Homo sapiens: one gene and its partners. The protein of the gene in region 2 interacts with the protein of the main gene of each other region in a biochemical or structural test. Each region holds a gene or a part of one and is shown on either strand. Other genes may lie near its edges.

Evidence for each region.
Region 1: the proteins of SLC6A4 (region 2) and GPM6B form a complex in vitro, tested with the Homo sapiens proteins (one study listed by BioGRID).
Region 3: the proteins of SLC6A4 (region 2) and SCAMP2 form a complex in vitro, tested with the Homo sapiens proteins (one study listed by BioGRID).

Annotation. Positions count from the first base shown.
Region 1 is NC_000023.11:13,813,886-13,822,257, forward strand, and holds the start of GPM6B (neuronal membrane glycoprotein M6-b), read right to left. Parts: upstream 3,209-8,372; 5' UTR 3,020-3,208; coding exon 2,959-3,019; intron 1-2,958. UniProt on the Homo sapiens protein: May be involved in neural development. Involved in regulation of osteoblast function and bone formation. Involved in matrix vesicle release by osteoblasts; this function seems to involve maintenance of the actin cytoskeleton.
Region 2 is NC_000017.11:30,211,694-30,219,487, reverse strand, and holds part of SLC6A4 (sodium-dependent serotonin transporter), read left to right. Parts: intron 1-556; coding exon 557-691; intron 692-1,150; coding exon 1,151-1,370; intron 1,371-2,183; coding exon 2,184-2,322; intron 2,323-3,271; coding exon 3,272-3,406; intron 3,407-3,773; coding exon 3,774-3,877; intron 3,878-6,620; coding exon 6,621-6,748; intron 6,749-7,794.
Region 3 is NC_000015.10:74,848,932-74,856,725, reverse strand, and holds part of SCAMP2 (secretory carrier-associated membrane protein 2), read left to right. Parts: intron 1-2,076; coding exon 2,077-2,145; intron 2,146-2,606; coding exon 2,607-2,705; intron 2,706-3,229; coding exon of another isoform or gene 3,230-3,358; intron 3,359-4,539; coding exon 4,540-4,657; intron 4,658-5,244; coding exon 5,245-5,373; intron 5,374-6,052; coding exon 6,053-6,212; intron 6,213-7,794. UniProt on the Homo sapiens protein: Functions in post-Golgi recycling pathways. Acts as a recycling carrier to the cell surface.

The DNA of each region.
Region 1 (8,372 bases), on a different chromosome or scaffold from region 2:
CCATCTAAGAAAATCTGCTTGTTTTCCTTAAAAATCCCTAAATATCTACTAAATACTCTTGTGAATTTTGGTATCTGGTAGCATGCTGTGATGAAAACTATCAGACTGAAAAAACACAAATGCTTTCCTTTTTTAAGGACATGGATTAATTTTGTCTAAAGTAGAAACAAAGTCATTGTGATTAAGTTTAAAGAAAGAGCTCTCTTTGTAGGAGTTAGTGAATCACAATAGCTGGGTTGTGTTGTCCCGCTGAAACTCCCAGGAAAGATCCCAACTAGAAAAGCAAGGTCAATTTATAAAGCTAAGTTTAATTTACATTCTTAGTTCTTAATAGACACTGCAATAATTATCCAAAGATATTAATTCACATGCTATTGGGTATTAGCCATTGGGCAATAATGCCCCAAATTAAGAGACAGGCATCACTCCATCACCAACCACTGAAAACAGATGGGAAAGGAGAAACACAGGAAAAAAAATATATATGTGCATAAAAAACTCTGCGTAAAGTGACAAAATTTACAGGATTAAATTTAATGAATAAAATCCTTTGCTGAAAGGCTTAAAAGAAAAACATAAAAAACGGATCCACCAGCTCAAGAATTATATAACACATTCTATAAATAATTATGTCAAGTTTTCAAATGTTAATTTCAATGGAAAAATAATTTTTTAATAAACTTAAAGTTAAATCTGAAGGAATACTGATGTGACAATCACGCAGAAACATTTGTGGCTATCATTTTATCCTATGTGTACCTTAATGATGATGGGTGAGCAAATTGGGAAACTACAAAGTGTCTTGTGTGGGCTTTGATTTTGTGTAGCCAGCATATGAACTTGTTCATCTAAATGCAGATTAGATAAGCCACCCTCCAGATCAACAATTATGGTGGGTCACACAACAATCACAACCCCTCTTGCTGTAGATCAGGAAAAACAAATCCCCTGGCTTGTATTCTTATTCAAGCATGTACCATACATGTCACACTAGCTTCTGGTAGTGTGATATTTTTGAATTATTTAACAAGCAGCTAGTGTTTATACATTTAGGTAATTTTTAAAGTTCCTTCACAAATTATCTTTTGCTTCTAATTTTGTCTCTAAAATCACAACTAATGACTTTTCATATACGGGTTGTCAGGGATGTACTAGCAACCTGTAGATCTGTTATTAAATAAGATTTAATTGACATAAAATAATAGCAGTCCATAAGACTAAGTGATAAGATACACAGTTGTGTAGTAATGATTTTATATTGGTTATATGACCTTTGCTTCCTTTCAGAGAGAAATTTAAAAAAGGGATTTTTTTGCAAAGACCAAAACGGTTTTATCTGCCATGGTTGAATACCACATTAATAAAAATTAAAAGTATGTACTAAGTAAAATCATCATTTTAGGATAAAATCGTGATAGGCTTCCTTGGGACAATGCTATTACATTATCATACCCCGACAACATGCAATCAACTTAGTCTCTAGTCATCATGGAAAAAACTTTGATCTCACTTCTTCATCTTGATAAATATTCCCAAGAGCTTCTCTTATAGCTATTTGGTCATTGATGAAGATTTTTTTTTTTTAAAGACACACAAGAAAATACAGGCTGGGTTTTTGGTGGGGAGGTGTAGATTTGGTAAGAGGATTGAACTAAACAAACGATTTTAAAATTAAGGTGCTATGTACTTAATGCCACTGAATCGTATACTTAAAATGGTAAATTTTATGTTATGTGTATTGTGTGATACCTAAAAAAATTAATTTAAAAAGTAAAATTGCTCTGTTTAGGATAAAATATTATTGTGTACCAAAGAAATTTTATATAAAAACAAGCAGTCTTTACCCCAGCATACTGTGAAGCTGAAGTACATGTAATTGCCGTTTTTGTAGGTTTAAAATGGTTGACTATCAGCAATTTCATATGGTTCAGCCTGTATCTTTATAAATAAAACGAAGTTTTGTCCCCGTACTGGCGAATTACTCTTTAGTGACTATCAGTGGACGCAAGGGCTGTGAGAAATAACCTTAGCATGATGGCTTTTTATATTAGAGCCACTGCGGTTACAGAATATGTTTTTGGGCATTTATGACAGTCTATGACTTTGAGTGAGGGAAAATTACAATGCAGTGAGATCCATTAACCTAACAGTGGCTGAGCCGATTCTATGGGACATCAAACTTGAAATCAGTCATTATTTAGAAAAAAGAGATTAATTTTAGTTCCTTTCTGCCATTTTCTTACTGCAAAAACACTTTATTCTCCAAAAAACCATTCTGTATATGAAAATTGTGGTACGTTCTAAGATTCTCTTTAAGAAATAGGACCTTTATCAATTTTCTTCCCCCCAGTCTCCAAGTCATAATTAGCAGAAGATCCCCCGCCCTGCCTTTCCATCAGCACTGGGTGACAGAGCTGATGTCCCCTCTCTGAAGCTCCAACTGTAAATGATTATTACATGTCGTAGTCAGGGCCTGATACAAGAAAGAGCAATCATATTAGAATAAGAAAATTAGAGAATGCCCAAATCACTACAGCATTAGCGGAACCAAAGCAGAATTAACATGCATGCCCCTCCAGTTCCTCCTCAGCATTAGCAGAAAACTACACATTCCACGTTCCTGGAATATAACATGCAGGACACAAGACCTAAGTTACGATTAATTATATTAATAAAAAAAGACAGTTTCCCCAATGCATCAGCCCAAGGTGACAAACTATAGACATCCCTCTATGAAATATCACGTCGGTAGAAAGATTTGGAACAGGAATGGATTGAAGAAAGGCTGCTCTATTAACTTAACATCAGCCCACAGGAAAAAAATCAACCCTGAAAGCAAGACCATGCCATAGGGATTGTCTCAGAGCCATTTTAAAAGAGAGACAAAACCCAGCTAACCCTTTTTAAGCACCCCCCAGTGAAAAGCTTTAAACAGGCTATTGTCAGAGCGCTGGGTACCTTTTCTCTCTTGGCTTTGTTCAGTATTTTCCTCGGCTGCAGTTTCCATGGCTGGCTTCATACCATCCACCAAAAATGCTTTTCCCCCTGTTCCCCCCAACACACACTTGTTTTTCCTCCTCTTCCTTTTCTTTTGGACTCCCCTCCGTCTCTTATTTACACCCGTCTGATTGAGAGGCTCTGTTCTTCACTACAGTAGATTACAGTCCCTTCCAAGATGCAAAAGTCTTGTCAGCGTCAATTTCGCTCTGCCTACTGGTCCATAAAGACAGCTGCCAAGGGGCAGGCAGCCATACGTCACCGAGGATCCCAGTTAGAAAACAGCCATTCGGCGCCCGGTGGTGCCTACAGTCTCAATGCGGCTCCAGTGGGAGTTGGGGGTAGGGGGGTGGGGGAGAAGGACCTGCTCCCCACCGGGCTCTTCCTCCTTGCTCTCTTTCTTAAGATCTCAATCTCGATCTCTCTCTCTCTCTCTCTTTCTCCCCACCTCATTTCTTCTAGCCAAGTACACCCAATGAATGCTAATTAATTCTCCCAGGAAAAAATAGATTTGTGACATCAGAGGAGGGGATGTGAAGGAGAAAGAAAAGAGCCCCCTCCCACCACGTGACTTTGTTGGTCGACAGCAATATATGTCGTCTCTAAGGAGAATGCATGTCTTTGCATAGGCATGACACTTTCTTTCCTGTGTGGTCCATTTATGATGTATCAGTTTATTTCATTTACCCCTCGACCCTGGCAAAACATATTCAAAGGACGTGCCCATAGTCTCTATTTACTTTCTTAAATATTTGTCTTTCATACAATTTCTAGATAAGTACATTGCTTTTTAAAAATATAAATTAAAGAGGGGGAGAAAATACATTAGAGGGAAGAAAACTCAAACACGGATTTAACGATAGCAATGTAGCAATTTGTTATTAGAACCCACTCCCTTGTCTATAGTTAATATATATGATAGTAAGAGAAACTCAAGCCTAATTTGTAAAAAGGCACCCTTCCTTATTTAAAAATAAGCATAACATGTTCACAAGTATATCGAGCTGACATTTTGGTAGTTTCTTGGAATGAAAATCAAAATAGTTTTTTAATCGGATATGGTTATTTCTACATGGAGTTTTACTCATTAGAATTCCTCACTCCAAATCGAAGGGGTGTTTTCAAGAGCTCTCTAAATATTCAACATAAAGGCTAGTATACCAATAATGATTTGCCTTCTTGCATACCCAGATACCATGAGGCCAACATTCTCAACCCATACCAACATATAAGCCTTTATCATGATTATGAGCCATGTTTCCAAGCATCACTAATTTCTGCACCATTTTTTATGCATTTGGCTGACCAACTGGCCTTCGCCGTCCCTATAAAAAATTAGAGAGACTCAAGTCAAATACAGGGATGACCACTGATAGGATTCCCAGATCATGAATAGTCTGCTAGTTGGTTGGGCTTAACACTTATCTTGGAAGCAAACATAAAGACAAGTTGGAGACCACCCTCTCCTAAAATCACTCTCCTAAGTTTTGATGGTTTCTTGCTCAACTCCTTGAAAAAAAAGTATAAGGTACTGAATCAAAATCTTCTAAAAACCTGATCTTTTAATACCTTGGTTTTAGATAATCCCTCAAACCTTCTTATATTTAGAACTTCTAGATGTGTTACAGTCGAGAAGATTTTGAAAACCAGTTTAGCTTGTTTCAACGTTTAATTTTACATCTTGCTTTTCCCTTTACCATTGTCTTAGAAGACCACGCCCACAATCAAATATGTATTCCCTCAAATTAAGGCCCCAGCCAATTTTATTGTCTCCTGGTCAGGGGATTGAGAAGTATGGCAGCCTAAAACCACAGACTTTAGAAAAAAGATTCGTTTGTGATATAATTATTTCCATGGGAAAACCCTATGGTGTGTCCGGATAGGACAGTCTTAGACATTTTTTGCAAAGACTACTTAGGTCCATTCAAATATAGAAAGGTGGCAAGTGTTGGTATGTAACAGGCTTGCTTTCCCAGCAGTTCAAATGAGAATTAAAACCAAAACAAAATTCAATTCAGCACAAAAGAGGACACTGTGATTAGCTGTTATTGGTTTTTAAAGTGTCCAGCAAAAACATCTGATTATAGAACCAGCAGATCCTAATAATTTTTTGGCTGTTGCTTAAGAATATTATTTTAATAGTGATGCTGGTGAAAAGGCAGAATATGAAAGACATTCTTAATTTAAGAACAACTCTAGTTCTATATCGAGATCAAAACCATTAGACAAAATATTCACACATCCTCCAGTTGATACCTGCATCTACTTTCCACCTGAAAAACTACATGGAAATGAGCAATTCATCACTTTTGCCTGATTCACAACTTCATCATTTTCTTTTCACTAGGATAATGTATTACAATTCTAGAAATTACCATTATATCACTTTATAACAGCCTCAAGATCTCACTGATGTTTATGATAAACCATTTGAAAAACAATTGTCAAGAGGAAGAGAGAAGAGTATTGCTTATTACATTTCTGAGATATGCATCCATTTTTGGCCAGAAAAGTTCTATATGTAGAAGTAGGATGGAAAATGTCTTCCAGAGCTGAAAATATTTCTTTGAGCCCCATGCTCTAAGGCAGTCTGGTTGAAGGTAAGAACACTTCTGAAAGCCAAAACAGGAATACAAAATACTGAACAAAACAGATTAGAATAAACATATGAAATTGCTGATATTGACCAAGAAGAACAGCAGTTTCACGTGGTTTGACTTATATGTTTGTAAGTCTTCTGTATAATTGCAGCCAGCTCAGTAAACATGCATGAAGTAACCTCCCTAGTGCCAACATCTACAAGCAGCACAGACATGCACAAGTGACGATGCCTGTCTCCAGGTAACCCACGGCTAATGGGACACAGAAAACTCTTCTAAAACAGGGTGCTCCTGCCTGCCACAAGCACTATGGCATCACAACAAAGAAAATGGATGGAGGGGGAAGAGAATTTGAAAAAAGCTTTGCAGAGTTGAGTTGGCTATTGCAGTAATGCTTAGAAACCTGCTGGGTAGGGTAGGGAAGGGAAAAGCAGGAAAGAGGAACGGAAAGAGTTCTAGGAAAAACTGAAGGGCATATGAGAGGAAAAAGAGGGTACTGTCAAAGGGTCAGGAAGTGATTTTTCTGACAGAGGGACTGAAGGGAGATGGCTGAGCCAGTAGGTTGGGAACCAGGTAGGTTGAACACCTTGCTAGCCCTAGAGGCAGTAGGTAGAGATAGAAGGCTCAAGAGCAGAGCTGATCGTGCTTTACAAAGGTCATTCTATTGGTAACGTGGAAGACAGGGTGGGTGGAGTATGAGACTAGAGGCTGGCAAACTAGTCAGGAGTCTCCTGCAACAGTACCAGTAAGAGATAGTGTGAACCTGAACTATGGCACGGGGAGGAAGTGAGGACCCAGATGTCATTGGATTGGATCTGTATGAGTAGGGGTGGAGGAGGATTTGAAGGGGAGGCTAGAGTTTCTAGCTTGGGTGAGTGAGGAGATGGTCATGCTGGGAACCAATATGGGGAACCAAAGAGAAGGAAGAAGTTTGGTAGGGGAGATTATCAAGCGTGGTTGAAGGTGCTCTTAGGACATCCTGCAGGGACTAAGAGGCATTCAGGAATATGGCTCCAGAAGAGAGGAGCTGGCCAGAGAGCAGCATCCGGGAGTCTTCAGTGTGGAGGCAGCCCTGGGAGTACAAGAAGCCCAGTTCTGCTCAAATGCCATCTTCTCAGGGGACTCTCCCTGACTCTTGTCTAAAATAGCAGCCCTGACATTCCTGGTCCCCTTAATCTGGATTTGAGTTTCATCATAGCTTTAACCACGACTCAACACTGTTATTCACTTATTTGTTCATCACTTCCCATCCTCCTAGAATACAGGCTCCTTAAAGGCAGAAATTGTTGTCTTATTCTCCACTGTATTCTAAGAGCTCTTGGAACACTTCTGGGCACATAGCGGGTTCTCAACAAAATCTATTTTAAATCAATGTTAAACAACCAGGGAGAGATACAGATTTCAAGTATGCCAAGATTAGAGCTTAGGGTACACTACCTTTTAAATGTAAAGGTAAAGGAAAAACTTTAAAAAGAGGGTAAAAGAAACAAAGAAGGACAAATTAGAAAACGAGGGAAATAAGACCAAAGTGGAATCATGAAATTCGAGAAAGGTTCTGTGAAGGGCATCAAGTTAACAGTGTAGAATAGTGTCAAATACCATAAAAGGAGGAAAAAGGATGAGGACTAGCAAGCAGAAAGGAGTTTTACCACCAAATAGCCTTTGGAACTTCTGTGAGAAGGCTGAATGATGGGGAAGGATATAACACTTCCCAGTCTCTTTCACGATCACCCTCAAAATAGGAGGCTCCCAAGGTCCAGTTGACATGTTAAACTCATACATAGGGCTTTGGCTGATGCCTGTACATCTTGGCCCTGTTTTTAACCTGGCAAGATCATATTGGATTTTTCTTCTGTGATCTATTACATTAATGATCTTCCCAGATTTGTTCTGTTTCCAAGTATAGTAAATATGCTTTGTGTGTCTGGGATTCAAATCATTGATAGAAATGTTGAACACAACAAGACCAAGGTGAGGGAATCCCATGTAGACCTCTATGGACATCGTCCTGGTCAGTTGGCTGGTTCATTCTTTCATTTCTTTGTTCATTCATTCGTTTATTCATCCAAGATTCATTAAGCACTTATTAAAGGCCAGAAATCAAATCACTTTTTTTTTCTTTTTCTTTTTTGAGACGGAGTTTTGCTCTTGTTGCCTAGGCTGGAGTGCAATGGCGTGATCTCGGCTCACTGCAACCTCCGCCTCCCGGGTTCAAGTGATTCTCCTGCCTCAGCCTCCCAAGTAGCTGGGATTACAGGCATGCACCACCACCCTGGCTAATTTTGTACTTTTAGTAGAGACGGCGTTTCTCCACGTTGGTCAGGCTGGTCTTGAGCTCCTGACCTCAGGTGATCTGCCTGCCTCAGCCTCCCAAAGTGCTGGGATTACAGGCATGAGCCATCGTGCCTGACCCGAATCACTATTCTATGCTAATATGACTATGACTGTTCAGCTGACCGAGAATTCATCAAGTTGCATAATGATATACTGACACATCCTTATCCTAGTCACATAGCTAGCAAAGACTTTGTCAAATGCCTCCTTCCAACTTTCTAGGATGATATTTTAGGTTTCTTCTGGCTTTTGAAGGACTCCTCAGGGGGCAGTCATTAATCAGAAGGAGGGATGTTTCCACATTCTTTCTAACTACTAATACCTCTGCAATTTTGGTGTTTCATGGAACATTTAAGCAACAAGAAACACCCTGGCATAATCCTTCCTTATTGCCCCTCAAAGGAAATCAATACCCAGAACAAGCTCTACACCTCCCTCAAC
Region 2 (7,794 bases):
GTTGCAGCTGTTGCTACAGATTGTCACAGGTGATCTGTTCCAAGGGTCCCAGGTACTGGCTGCATCGGAATCACCTAGGGAGCTTGAACACAATTTTTGTGTTGTGCCCATGCTTGGAGATTCCGCTTCAGGAGGTCTGGGGTAGACCCAGGAATCTAGGTGACTATGATGTGTGGCTACATTTGGGAAACTCAGCTCTCCTCAACTGTGTTCTTTTATAGGGAGGAAATTGGGGCTCAGAGAGGGGAAGTGGCCCAGCGTTCTCCAGGTAGTCATAAGTGGATGTGATCCTGCCTGTTCTGTCGACTCCCAAACCAGGCTTTCTTCCCAATTGCTCTCTTGGCCTCCTCTGAAACCTCATTTTAGTCATGGTGCTCCCCCTACGACTGCTTCTAGCAAAGCACTGAGACCAGAGGAGCACAGCATGAGGCCACTCAGCCCAGGGTGGCTCCTGACACTCACATCATCCGGCGACTGTGATTCTCAGTCACAGATTGGTTGGGCTATCCTGGGACAGACGTGGGCAGGGAGTGAAATTGTCTTTCATCTGCCTCAGGGGCATTCCTCCTCCCCTACACCATCATGGCCATTTTTGGGGGAATCCCGCTCTTTTACATGGAGCTCGCACTGGGACAGTACCACCGAAATGGATGCATTTCAATATGGAGGAAAATCTGCCCGATTTTCAAAGGTAACTGAAGGGCTCGGTGGGGTGGGTAAGTGGAGCCTCTCAGGAAGGGATTTCCATCAGTGGGTGGGAGCTGGGGACCTTCTTCTGGAATCAGTCAGGCCTTAGGCATCCCTGGGAGACTGCTTGAGTAATTAAGGTTTTGACTGCGTAAGTGGTGTGAAATTGTCAAAGAGAAACAGAATAAACGGCAATGAGAAGTAAACTAATGTAAACATTTTAAAGCATTAACAGGACATGTACACATTTTCTAAAACATGTTACCTTGCAAATACATATGAGTGACTAACGGCAGGGCCACTTTTCCCACGGTGGCCTGGAGTCCTTGGAATGGAATGGAGGGCAGCACCCACGTGTACCCCTCTGCTGGGCTGCGGGGCTCTCCAGTGCCCCGTTTCAGCCTTTTGCCGTTGGGCCACCCTTAAACTCGGCCTCTGTCTCTCCATCTCACCCACTGCCCAGGGATTGGTTATGCCATCTGCATCATTGCCTTTTACATTGCTTCCTACTACAACACCATCATGGCCTGGGCGCTATACTACCTCATCTCCTCCTTCACGGACCAGCTGCCCTGGACCAGCTGCAAGAACTCCTGGAACACTGGCAACTGCACCAATTACTTCTCCGAGGACAACATCACCTGGACCCTCCATTCCACGTCCCCTGCTGAAGAATTTTACACGTAAGTGCACGTAAGTGAGGGGTTGGCCTGTTAGGGGCAGGCCACACCCCTGGGGTTTGGCTTCTTAAAAAGAAGGCCAGGGCCAAGGGCTCCTCACCCCTTTCTGAGAGATGAAGCTATCAGGGGTGGGAGTAGCAGAATTTGGAGCTGGGAAACTCTACCTCAAGTGCTCCACGGCCTGGCCCTGCTGTGCCTCCTTGCACTTTCTCATGCGCCAAGTCAGTTTGCTCCAATGCGCCCAAGCCCGTCCCTCCCTTCACATTCCAAAATTACTCCCCTTCTTCCGGGGTCCTCCTCTCAGCCAAATGTCATGGAGGCGAAGCATCCTAGTACTTTGATAGTTCAAAACTATTCAAATGGTTTAATGTGTCAACTTCGTAAGTGGGATCTACCCTTTGGAAGAAGATGCTTGAGGAAGGTAGTTTTCTTTAATGCTGGAATTTCAGGCAATGGCAGCCCAAAGAGAGAGCTACTTTGGGGTAGGGAAGGGAGCCAACTCCCCACACTTACACATCCCTCATGTTCCCAAAAGCCAGTCACATTGGTCAAAGGAGTTCAGGTCCCATCCAGCAAAGGAGAATCCAGGAAGTCTGCCTTTAGGTTGAACACTCTTCCCAGGGTGTTGGCCAAATGTGCTTTGTGGTCCTTCAGGACAGGCAGGGCCAATCCCAGCTCTTCCTGGGCCTCAGTGACCACTTGGTCCTAGCAGCACCGTGTCCATTTGTCCCGGGCACCCTCAAAGGAGCAGCACAGATGTGTGCCCAGGTCACTCTACAGAGCCTCTCAGGGGCCTTTCTTTCTCCTTCACCCCAGGCGCCACGTCCTGCAGATCCACCGGTCTAAGGGGCTCCAGGACCTGGGGGGCATCAGCTGGCAGCTGGCCCTCTGCATCATGCTGATCTTCACTGTTATCTACTTCAGCATCTGGAAAGGCGTCAAGACCTCTGGCAAGGTGAGGAAGGCTCTGGCTGCTGACCCAGGCCTGCCCAGGGGCCCACAGGCTCTCAAACTCAAAACCCAGTAGCCTGGACAGACAGCACTGTTTCCTTCCACACCAAACACATTCCATGATGCACCCTCTCTCTCTTCACCGCATTTGTTAGAAAATTCTAGAAGTGGGTTGGGCATGGTGGCTCACGTCTCTAATCCCAGCACTTTGGGAGGCTGAGGTGGGTGGATCATTTGAGGCCAGGAGTTCAAGACCAGCCTGGCCAACACATCGAAACCTCATCTCTACTTAAACAAACAAACAAACAAACAAACAAACAAACAAAAAAAAACAATAGCCAGGTGTGGTGGCAGGTGCCTGTAATCCCAGCTACTCGGGAGGCTGAGGCAAGAGAATCACTTGAACCTGGGAGGTGGAGATTTCTGTGAGCCAAGATCATGCCATTACACTCCTGGGCAGCAGAGTGAAATTCTGTCTCACTAAAAAAAAAAAGGAAAAGAAAAAAGAATATTTTCTAGAAATGGGCCAATGCCAAGAACCATTACATGATTTTTTTTTTTCAAGATTCCTTCAACCCACTGGTAGTACCACAATTAATAATCGTGGCAATGACTTACTGGAAACCCATCATGGACCATGTTCAGTGCTTTTTATACACTGGCCAGTGCTATTGTTTCCTGCTAGATACTCCCTCAACCTTACAGATGCATAGTGGGCTCAGAGGTAGTTCTCCTGGCCAACCTGAATCCGATCCCTGTGTGACTCCAAGGGTTGTGATCTTTCTGCCACACCACCTCGCCCTCCTTTCTCAAGGTCTTCAAGAATAAAAGACACTGACATCCATTCACCCACCTCCCTCCCCTCCCCTCCCCTCCCCCGCTCCCTTCTCCTTCTCCCCTCCCCTCCCCTCCCCTCCCTGGAACAGCATGGTGATAACCCTTCTTCCTTACAGGTGGTGTGGGTGACAGCCACCTTCCCTTATATCATCCTTTCTGTCCTGCTGGTGAGGGGTGCCACCCTCCCTGGAGCCTGGAGGGGTGTTCTCTTCTACTTGAAACCCAATTGGCAGAAACTCCTGGAGACAGGGGTAAGATGATGAGGGAAATATGTGTACCTGTCTGTCATTTTACTAAACGAAGCTGGTCCTCCTCCAAATAGGACAGTAGGGACAACTGAAATGTGGCTTCAGTGTGCAAGTCTGCAATGATACTTTAACCAAGAAATACAAGCATTAAAGTACAGTTGAGGCCACTGGATGGGTTTATGCCTGAATCATAGGAAGAGAAATCACATTTGTTGGCACTTGGTTTATGGCTATGCCTGGAATGAGCCTTAAAAGCTGTTTTTCTGCCTCTGCACTTAGCCACATGGAGGCAGGAGTGGCGACCCTGTTGGTGCCAGGGTAAGCCTGTGTCTCCCCCTCACCCCATGCCCTTACCCCTGCTGTGTTCCAGGTGTGGATAGATGCAGCCGCTCAGATCTTCTTCTCTCTTGGTCCGGGCTTTGGGGTCCTGCTGGCTTTTGCTAGCTACAACAAGTTCAACAACAACTGCTACCAGTGAGTATCTGGGGTCCCCAAGCAAAGCTTGAAAGTGGCGTGAGTGAAAGTCAGCTAGTGTGGAGGAAGGTGATTGGACCGACGGCCTCGAATCTGGCCAGGCTTAGGCCTTGATACCACTGCCCCTCAGGGGTGCTGCAGGCCCCTGACCAGCTCACCCATGGCCAGAGCACTCATCCAGGCCGTGGCTTCACCTGGGCCACTCAGGCTGAGAGGGGCCCCATGCCCTTCGGTTTTGTCAGCGCTCCTGTATATAAAAATAATAAGAGGCTGGACATGGTGGCTCACGCCTGTAATCCCAGCACTTTGGGAGGCCAAGGCAGGTGGATCACCTGAGGTCAGGAGTTCCAGGCTAACCTGGCCAACATGGCGAAACCCTGTCTGTACTAAAAATACAAAGATTAGCCAGGCATGGTGTTGCACACCTGTAAGCACAGCCACTTGGGAGGCTGAGGCACGAGAAGTTGCAGTGAGCTGAGATCTTGCCACTACACTCCAGCCTGAGTGACAGAGCAAGATTCCAGAAAGAAAGAAAGAGAGAGAGAGAAAGAGAGAGAGAGAAATAAAGAAAGAAAGAAAGAAAGAAAAAAGAAAGAAAGAAAGAAAGAAAGGAAGGAAGGAAAGAAAAAGAAAGAAAGAAGAAAGAAGGAAGGAAAGAAAGAAAGAAAGAAAGAGAGAGACGGGGTGCGGTGGCTCCCACCTGTAATCTCAACACTTTGGGAGGCCGAGGCGGGTGGATCACGAGGTCAGGAGATCGATACCATCCTGGCTAACACGGTGAAACCCCATCTCTACTAAAAATACAAACAAATTAGCCGGGCGTGGTGGCGGGCGCCTGTAGTCCCAGCTACTCAGGAGGCTGAGACAGGAGAATGGCGTGAACCCAGGAGGTGGAGTTTGCGGTGAGCCGAGATTGTGCCACTGCACTCCAGCCTGGGCGACAGAGTGAGATTCCATCAAAAAAAAAAAAAAAAAAGAAAGAAAGAAAGAGAAATTGCAAAGCAAGTTTACAAAAAGCTGCAACATACAATTAAGTAGTTAGGTTTAACTAGTCAATGTGTTTAACAATAAAAATTGTAATGTGATTATTTGTATTATGTATAAACAAAAAGTATGATGATCACATTATTTTGACTAACACAAAATACCATAATTTTTCTTTTCTTTTCTTTTTTTTTTTTTTTTTTTGAGACGGAGTTTCGCTCTTGTTGTCCAGGCTGGAGTGCAATGGCGCAATCTCAGCTCACCACAACCTCTGCCTCCCGGGTTCAAGCGATTCTCCTGCCTCAGCCTCCCGAGTAGCTGGGATGACAGGCATGCGCCACCACGACTGGCTAAATTTGTATTTTTAGTAGAGATGGGGTTTCTCCATGTTGGTCAGGCTGGTCTCCAACTCCCGACCTCAGGTGATCCACCTGCCTCAGCCTCCCAAAGTGCTGGGATTACAGGCGTGAGCCACTGTGCCCAGCCAAAATGCCATAATTTTTGCAACAAAATCCTATTTCAGAAATTTTAACAGAACAGGAAATGTTACACCAATTATGGTTTTAAATATCACCCACTGGGCCAGGTGCAGTTGCTCAAACCTGTAATCTTAGCCCTTTGGGAGGCTGAGGCAGGAGGATCACTTGAGCCTAAGAGTTTGAGTCCAGCCTGGGCAACATGGTGAGATCCCATCTCTACAAAAAATTTAAAAATTAGCTGAGTGTGGTGGTGCATGCCTATGGTCCCAGCTCTTCAGGAGGCTGAAGCAGGAGGATTGCTTGAGCCCGGGAGGTTAAGGCTGCAGTGAGCTGTGTTCATGCCACTGCACTTCAGCCTGTGCAACAGAGGGAGACCCTATCTCAAAAATAAATAAATAAATAAATAAATAAATGTCACCCATCATCTTTAGACTTAATTTTAATTGATCACAGATGGCAGCATCCATCAATCTCTTTGTGCTATGCATAAGATAATTGTAAAACTGATTTTTTTAAAGGTGGGAGGGAGATTCACATGTACCCTAAGCAATGTGGCCTTGCACTGGGACACCACCCTGCAGTTGTATGATGAGGCTGTCATTTAAAAGTGTGAGATCAGGAGTTTGAGACCAGCCTGGCCAACATGGGGAAACCCCATCTCTACTAAAAATACAAAAATTAGCCAGGCGTGGTCGTGGGCGCCTGTAATCCCAGCTACTTGGGAGGCGGAAGCAGGAGAATCACCTGAACCCGGGAGGCAGAGGGTACAGTGAGCTGAGATCAAGCCACTGCACTCCAGCCTGGGCAATAGAGCAAGGCTCTGTCTCAAAAAAAAAAAAAAAAAAGAAAAAAAAATGAGGGTATCTCTCTGGCTGGCAGTCTGTGACTTAGTTTGAAGATAAAGCCTAAATCTGAGGATCTCACAAATGTGAGGCTCAGGCCCTGTCCTGGCCCCCACTCCAACCTGGGCCCTGCTCCAGAACAAGGCTGGTTTGAAATGGAGAGGTCTGTGCTAGCAGGATTGCCTTTTAAAGCACCCCTGACTGCTCTTCTCCCTCCACCATGTGTGGTGGTCATGGCAGTCAGAGCTTCAGGCCTCGGCAGCTGGGTTCTGGGAGAAGGCGAAGGGACTCCGGGACAGGCTTGAGGTTCCTTGAGTTCAGCCTGCTTGTCCTTGCTGTGGCCGCCCTGTCTAAGGCAGGGCAGGCACACGGACAGATGCTCCTTAGACCCCTGATCTTGGAACTGTCTCAGGCGGCCCCTTGGGTTTTCCCCTCCAGAGATGCCCTGGTGACCAGCGTGGTGAACTGCATGACGAGCTTCGTTTCGGGATTTGTCATCTTCACAGTGCTCGGTTACATGGCTGAGATGAGGAATGAAGATGTGTCTGAGGTGGCCAAAGACGCAGGTAGGACCTCGGGTTCTATGCAGGTCCCTTGCTCCTACTGAGTTGCTTTGCTTTGAATCTTTGTAAAGATCTAACTTTTGATTTATTTCTAAATGTTCCTGAAATTTTCCAAAGAAGGCTGGGCATGGTGGAGTTCAAGACCAGCCTGGGCAACATAGTGAGACCCTGCCTCTATAAAAAAATAAATGAGCTGGGCATGGTAGTGCACACCTATAGTCCCAGCTACTCAGGAGGCTGAGGTGGGAAGATTGCTTGAGCCTGGGAGGTCAAGGCTACAGTGAGCCATGATCACACCACTGTACTTCAGCCTGGGTGACAGAATAAGACCCTGTTTCCAAAACATTTTTTATTCAAAGATTTGAGAGAAGCTCGATGCCTTAGAGATCTTTCCATGTGTTCAGGCCATGCAGGGACAGGGCAACTCCCTTGGCACCCAGTTCTGGGGCCTCCAAAATCTATGGGCTTGAAATGATGACTCTGATGATGGCTTTAAAACCAGTGGGTTTGCTTCCTGTGATGGTCTTGTGATGGCTCAAAGTCTAGTAAGCAAATATCATTTATCCTTAGAACTGCCCCTTGCAGAAAAAGAAAATCTAGCCAATATGACCACTCTATTTTACCGTGAAGTTTTTGTGGAAAAAGAAAAGAGCAACAGAGGGAGAAAAAACAGATGATGGCATCTAGTGGGCGAGGTCCCAGGGCCTTCTTGTTACAAGCATGTTAGCATGCTTGTATCTTTGGCCTGATTCGGTGCTTTGACCAACCCCATACCCCAAACGAGGGCACCCCTAGCTAACCCATGAGAGGCTGAAGACATGTCCCTCACACTTTCAAAAGGGACTTTAAAATAGAAAGAGGTCTTTATTCCAAAGCCTCTGTGACTCTACGGAAATCAATTTAACATTTCCTACTGTTCTGAAGCTGAAGACATCAGAGGGGGCTAACTGTCATGGACTTTAGAAATATCAATCCTGGTCCTGAGAAATCCCATGGAATTGTTATATGGTGGAAACTCTTATTCTCATGTGCAGCTTTGCCAGTCTCTG
Region 3 (7,794 bases), on a different chromosome or scaffold from region 2:
GTTACTCCGGAGGCTGAGGTGGGAGGAATGCTTGAGCCCAGGAGTTTGAGGCTACCATGAGCTATGATTGCACCACTGTACTCCAGCCTGGGCAACAGAGTGAGACCCTGTCTCTAAAAAAGAAAAAGGAAAAAAAAAAAAAAGAACTGGAGGCCAGGTGCAGTGGCTCACATCTGTAATCCCAGTACTTTGGGAGGCTGAGGTGAGCGGATCACCTGAGGCCAGGAGTTCAAGACCAGCTTGCCCAACATGGTGAAACCCCATCTCTACTAAAAATATAAAAATTAGCTAGGTGTGGTGGCAGGCGCCTGTAATCCCAGCTACTCAGGAGGCTGAGGCACGAGAATAGCTTGAGCCCAGAAGGCGGAGGCTGCAGTGAGTGGAGATCATGCCACTGCACTTCAGCCTGGGTGACAGAGCGTGACTCTGTCTTAAAAAAAAAAAAAAAAAAAAAAAAAAAAGAACTGGCTCTGCAGAGGCTTCCAGTGGAGGTGAGGCTGGGCCTGAAGTTTGGGAGCATCTGGTTTAATAATTAGGGGTGTGGGGTGAGGTGTGGAACCCAAGCGGTGTCTCCACAGGCAGGAACAGCCCTGAATTTGGCCACCCTCAGGGCTGTTCCTCATGGAGCCCAGGCATGGCTGTGAAGCTGGACCTGAGCCCTGCATCTGTTACTAGGAAGGGGAGGGTGTGGAGGAGCTCTTCTTGGGGCAGGGCAGGGTGAAGACAACTGTTCCAGGCCAGCAGGGGCACAGTAAAGAGGATGGCAGAGCCCCATGCAGAGATCAGATGGGAAAGGGAGACAAGGTTGTGTTCTGAGGACATTCTTGGATTTTATGAAAAGACTTTAAAAAACCCCCGAAACCCAGAAACATTTTCTTGAATTTTCACCTCAGCTCATCATATCTCTGCTCTTAGCAAGTGTGCCCGATTTAATAAAATCAGTACTGGCAGCCAGCAGCATGTTTTTGTTCTAGAAACTTAGACTACTTTTTTTTTTTTTTTTTTTTTTGAGATGGAGTTTTGCTCTTGTTGCCCAGGCTGGAGAGCAATGGCACAATCTGGGCTCACTGCAACCTCTGCCTCCCGGGTTCAAGTGATTCTCCTGCCTCAGTCTCCGGAGTAGCTGGGATTACAGGCATGCGCCACCACACCTGGCTAATTTTATATTTTTAGTAGAGACGGGGTTTCTCCATGTTGGTCAGGCTGGTCTTGAGCTCCCGACCTCAGGTGATCCACCCGCCTCAGCCTCCCAAAGTGCTGGGATTACAGGCATGAGCTACTGCACCCGGCTACCTTAGACTGTCTTTTACAAAATAAGAGGAATGGCCAGGCATGGTGGCTCACGCCTGTAATCCCAGCACTTCGGGAGGCCGAGACAGGCAGATCACGAGGTCAAGAGATTGAGACCATCCTGGCCAACATGGTGAAACCCTGTCTCTACTAAAAATACAAAAATTAGCCGGGTATGGTGGCGGCCGCCTGTAGTCCCAGCTACTCAGGAGGCTGAGGCAGGAGAATCGCTTCAACCCAGGAGGCGAAGGTTGCAGTGAGCCAAGATTGCGCCACTGCACTCCAGCCTGGGTGACAGAGCAAGACTCTGTCTCGAAAAAATAAAAAAATATAAAAAAAGAGGAATAAATGAATAATAAGTAAAACAGTACAGAAAGGTTATAAAGTCAATAGTAAGTCTCTACCCTCACCACCCCATTCACTTGCCCCTCAGCACCCCACCCCTCAAAAAAAAAAAAAAACCCACTCCCTAGAGGTAAATACTATGAACCATTTTGAATCTGTATAGGGCACCAACAGGAGCCTGTGTGGTGTGTACTCTCAAGCTTCTGGGTAAAGCTTGCTCTGGGTCTCTTCTGGGCTGAACCTTTTCCAGGAAGGGGGAAGGGAGAAGGGACCGCAGCTGTGGTGTGGCAGAGGCAGGCACAGGACCCTTCCAGAGAGGCTTCTCAGGGTCCCGGGAGGGTGATCAGCTGCCCTGCTTCAGTCAGGCGTCACCGGCTCGCCTGCCGGCCCCTGGCCCGGATTTTCTCCACTGTGTCTAAGGGCTTTTTTTCACCTTCTCAGGATCCCTCTGTGACCCAGCTGACCAACGCCCCGCAGGGCGGCCTGGCGGAATTCAACCCCTTCTCAGAGGTTGGTGAGCAGGCCCTCTTTCCAAGTCCCATGGCCCTCTAGGGTGGTGCTGGGGTGTCCGGGGCAGGGATCCTTGGCAAGGACAGAAGCAGCTCTGAGAAGCGGCAGTCCTCAAAGGGACAGTCCTAACATGAACCCGGGAGGCAGGGTAAGGATGGCAAAGCCACCAAACGCTCTGTAAAATTCTCCCCTTGGGATCTGTGACCGGGGCCCCTCCCCAAGGAGGTCAGGGCAGTGCCCAAGTGTGCTGGACCCAGCGAGCCCAGGGGTGCCGGGTTAGGGATCAGATGGCCTGAACCTGAGGCTTGTTGGCTGGGAAGCCACAGGGGAAGGCCCAGTGCAGGCCCCGAGGGAGTCCCCTCACAGGCAGGGGCACATCACTCATCCTGCTGTGGGTTTGCCCCCTCGTCACCAGCTAATGGAGTCCCACTCAATTCTGTCTTTTGATTTGTTCCATGTAGACAAATGCAGCGACAACAGTTCCTGTCACCCAACTCCCTGGGTCCTCACAGCCAGCGGTTCTCCAGCCATCAGTGGAACCAACCCAGCCGACCCCCCAGGTAGTGCTGACAAAGAACTCTGGCCTTTTCTCTCCAGTGAGGGAATCATCCAGACCAGTAGCTGAGCCCTGAGGCTGGGGGCAAGCAGAGAGCTTTCAGCCTTGGCCCCCTAAGGGCCCTCTTGCTAATTTGTTCGGAGCTGGTCACCTACAAGTAGAGGGGCTGCTCTGCCAATTAATATCCTTACTCCCTCCATCCCACCCACCACCACCACTGAGAAATAAGCTCTACTCACCAGGCCGGGCTCCTCGGTGCCTCCAGAGAGGGCATTTGTCCCTGTTGTACCCCTCCAGGTCCTCCTCGGGCCTTTGGCTTGTTCTCTCTTCCTTGGGGCCCAGAATCTCTCTCTTTTTTTTAACTTCATTAATTCTCACCTTCCTTCCTGTCTTCCTTTGTCCCTTCACCAAATACTGTGAATCTTGCCTGCTTTGTGCCTGGTGCTCCACTGCGCCGCCTCACTGCCCTCCCGCTGCACCCCTCGCTGCCCCTATGAGCGTGACCCATGGTGGAGTTGTGTGTTGCAGCTCCTGCTTAGACAGGCCAGCAAGTTCCCGCCTGCCCAATTCCTGGCAGTGAGCGAGCTCTCAGAGAGGCAGATGCTCCTAGGAGGAGAAAGTATTCTCAGAGACAGCTACATGCGAAAGCTTCCGAAGGTAGGCCTAATGTAGATGAGCAGGAGGAAGGGCAGGGCACCCGGAGCCTGCCCCACACCCCTCCCAGGCCCCAGAGCCCTGTGGAGGTGAGGCAGGCCTTACATGCGGAGTTGCCTTTCTGTGCAGCTGGGTGGTGGGCTGTAGGGAGCTGGGTCCTTCTCAGCTGGCGTCACAGACTTGGAGGAGGTCAAGACCCCCAGCGTGGCACAGCGGGGTCAGTTCTGCTCCTGCTTCCGCCCCCAGTGCCTGAAACTTGGCTCTCCACGTCAGCCTTAGGTCTTTGAAGAGCTTTTGGAGAGGTTGGTGTGTGTATACATGTGTGTGTGTACACATGTGCCTGGTTTGTCATCCTGTGAAATGACCAGTTTGAGATCTCTCCCTAAAAAGGACTGTAGTCTCATCCTTCAGGAGGAACCTGGCCCAAATGGCAGCAGCTGCCAGCAGGTGCAGGGCCCCGGGGCCAGGTCTGTTCAGCCTCACATACAGTCAGTCCCTTACTGTTACTCAGAGGCTCTACCCCGCCTGGAGAGGAGATAAGTGTGGACTCTGCATGCCACTAAAGCCAGGCAGGGCAGGGCCACACCTAAGGGGCTGTCCTGGGGTGTAGCCAATTGCAGTTTAGGGGGACCTCAGGAGGCAGCTCCTGGGGGCAGGCCATGGGGCAGGGTGCTTGTACAGATCCTGAGGCTCAGGCACACGCCATCTGCCTTCACGTGTCTCCCCTTTCCACTCACTGTTAGCAGGCTTGCACTGTTTTCCTTCTCACACATCCACCAGGCTCTTCAAATGAGGCTTGGGTCTGTGGGTTTCTTATTATAGTTTAGTTTCTTGTGAGGTCTTTTTCCCAAAGGTCACAATCACTGAGCGCTGCCTTGACCCAGTATGGGGAAGAGGTGGAGAAGCCAATGGGGGTAGTTTTCCCAACTCAAGCTTAGGGATGAGGGGAGAGGACAGCTTAGTCATGGCCAAGGGGTCAGGAAGGTGTGGGGGCAGTGGAAGACAGGTTGGCCTCTCTAAGGTGGTCTCTGGTACCTAAGACACTCTGTGGGGCGGGGACTGCTTCTGGGACTCCTTGATGGCTGTCCCTGCCTGGGGCAAGGCCTCTCTGCCTGCCTACCCAGGCTGACACTGTTTCTGTTTGTTGTGTCTGGCTGTCCCTGTACCTCCCCTGTTCTCTCCAGGCCGTGGTGTCTGCAGCCCAGGCAGGCCTGCTCCGGCAGCAGGAAGAACTGGACAGGAAAGCTGCCGAGCTGGAACGCAAGGAGCGGGAGCTGCAGAACACTGTAGCCAACTTGCATGGTAAGGGAGGCTGCTGGGGCCTGGGGCTGCCCTGCCTGGCATAGAAGAGTGTCCTGAAACCTGTGCGGAGGGCCTCCCAGCATTCACCCTGAGCTGCCTTAGAGTTTTGTGGGGCTCTTCTCATCACAGGATGCTGGTCCTGGGAAGAGCAGTAAGTTGCAAGTCAGGAGACCTGCAGTGTAGTTGTAATGGCTGTAGATTACTTCTGCACTCCTTCCTAGCTCTCAAATTCCTTGATTCTTTGATAGCATAGGGGCTTTGGTCCCACAATTCCTTGCTAATGATGATGAACTGAGTTCTCACACTTATGGGCTGCTTGTTAATAAAAATAATCACTTAGGCCATTTAGCTGTCTGTATTTCCCAGTGCATTTGGGGTCTTTTATCTCCATGTGAGCTTGTTGGTATCTCTTTGGGTTCCATTATCCTGTTCTGTCCCACTCCATGCTCCATGCAGACTCCAAGCCCCGCTTGCTGGAGCCCCTCTGGGAACCCTGGTTTGGCCCATACACTATGCTGGCGTGCATGCACCTTGATGCCCCTTCTGAGGCTGGGCCCTTACCTCGTCACTCTTTTTGCCCTACCCAGTGAGACAGAACAACTGGCCCCCTCTGCCCTCGTGGTGCCCTGTGAAGCCCTGCTTCTATCAGGATTTCTCCACAGAGATCCCTGCCGACTACCAGCGGATATGCAAGATGCTCTACTATCTGTGGATGTGTGAGTCCCACTCCTGCCTTCCAAGCGCAAGGGCGAATTGGGTGTGACTTGAGAGCCCCATCTTGGTCCTGGCTGCTCCTCCCTGGTATACAGGCTTTCAGCAGACTCCAGCCTTCCTCAGTGCCTGGGCTGGGTTGGGGAGATGCCTCTGCCCACAGGCTGCCCCCTGTCTGGAAACCTCCTTGAAAGGGGCAGTCCAGACCACCGATCAGGGAGGGTGGGACTAACTAGAGGCTTCCAAGTTCCTTCAGAGCTCACTGCACTAAAAGGCCCTCCTTAGGTGAAGGCCTTCCCTGCCCACAGGCCTGTGAACTCTGAGGGGTGAGGAAGGAGACTCCCCCTGCAGCTCCATCAGGGGCCATCCAGGGCCAGGGAAAAGCATTGCTAAGAGAAAGACTTCCTTCCCCAAGGACCAGCCCTGGGTCTGCATCCTCCCTCCACACCCCTCAGATACCCGGGCTGTCCCATCACCTCTCAGGAACGTAGTTTGATCCCTGGTTTTGAGGTCCCAGAAAACCAGGATATGGGAACTATCCCTGCCTAGGTACAGAGCGGGCTCCTCTGTTTCAGCAGCTGCCTTCGCAGCATGAACCTCACCTCTCCTAGGGAGTGGCTGCCACATTGGAGCCCCTCAGCCACTGTGGCACAAGTCATAACTCTGTCCTGTCCCCTTCCCCAGTGCATTCAGTGACTCTGTTTCTGAACCTGCTTGCCTGCCTGGCCTGGTTCTCGGGCAACAGCTCCAAGGGAGTGGACTTTGGCCTCTCCATCCTGTGGTTTCTGATCTTCACTCCCTGTGCCTTCCTTTGTTGGTACCGACCCATCTATAAGGCCTTTAGGTGAGTGAGGCCGGGGCAAGGGGTGAGACTTTATGGCTGGCATCCCAGGTAGCAGGCTAAGGGCTATAGGCCCTGGGACCCCATCTGAGTCTTAGAGCAGAATAGAATGTAGGGAAATCCACTTTCCCTACATTCTGTTCCTCTGTTCCCACCCAGAGCAGAGATTGGGGGCCCCGTTCCTCAGTTTCTGTACCTGAGGTCTGCTCTGGGCCCTGTCCTTGGACCAGGCACAGGAGACCTAGAGAAGGGACCTCCCATCCCACTGCTCCCAGTCTGGCTGATGCCGTTACTGGGAAGAGGGAGGGGACGCTCTTTGGGAACTCCCTTCTGAGGCTCTAAGGTGTGCTTCTCTGGTAGTATCAGATGAGTGCTCTCCAGGGCTCTTTCTCCATGACTATTGATGCTTCCCAATAAAGACTGCCAACACCTAAGCTAGATACTGGGAACATAGCTGGATACACCTTACAGACCCCCAGGGGTTCTGGAATTGTACCTCAGGGTTTATGCTTTCAGGGCTGGGAGCCCAGCAGGCCCTGGGAAGAGGGATTAGGGTAGTGGCTGAACCATCCCTGTACCACTGGAGGCCCTGAACCCTCACTGTGATCTAGCCCTCAAGGACACAGAGATGGAAGTCCTCAGCTCGTGAGAGAGTTTTGTCTGGTGTCCCCTGTTTCCCAAATATTTTTTTCTTCCAGTCAGATGTACAGGTTTTGTTTTTTTCTCATTGTTCTTTGTTACCACGTATCCTCAAGTTCTATTGTTTTTGTTTTGAGAGGGAGTCTCGCTCTGTCACCCAGGCTGGAGTGCAATGATGCGATCTCGGCTCACTGCAACCTCCTCCTCCTGGGTTCAAATGATTCTCCTGCCTCAGCCTCCGGAGTAGCTGGGCTTACAGGCACACACAATCACACCTGGCTAATTTTTGTATTTTTAGTAGCGATGGGGTTTCCCCATGTTGGCCAGGCTGGTCTTGAACTTGTGACCTCAAGTGATCCACCTGTCTCGGCCTCCCAAAGTGCTGGGATTACGAGTGTGAACCACCGTGCCCAGCCTGTTTTGTTTTTTTGAGACAGAATCTCAGTCTGTTACCCAGGCTGGAGTGCAATGGCGCAGTCTCGGCTCACTGCAACCTCCGCCTCCCAGGTTCAAGTGAGTCTCCTGTCTCAGCCTCCCAAGTAGCTGGGATTACAGGCGCACACCACCACGCCCAGCTAATTTTTGTGTTTTTAGTAGAGACAGGGTTTTGCCATGTTGGCTAGGCTGGTCTCAAATTCTTGGCCTCATACAGTTTTATTATTAAGAGATTTACTTAGTTTTACTTATTATTAGAGATTTTACTTATTATATAGAGATTTACTTATTATTAAGAGATTGGCTTAGTTTTTCTTGCCTGTTATGAAACGCAAGTACTCCAGGAGATGGAGTGTTAGGTTCTTTGTTTTTTATTTACTTATTTTTCTGAGACAGAGTCTTACTCTGTCACCCAGGCTGGAGTGCAGTGGCGTGATCTTGGCTCACTGCAGGAGTGTTAGGCTCTTTATATTGTCCTTTGGGGGAGCAACTTTATCAGCTCTTTGAGGAA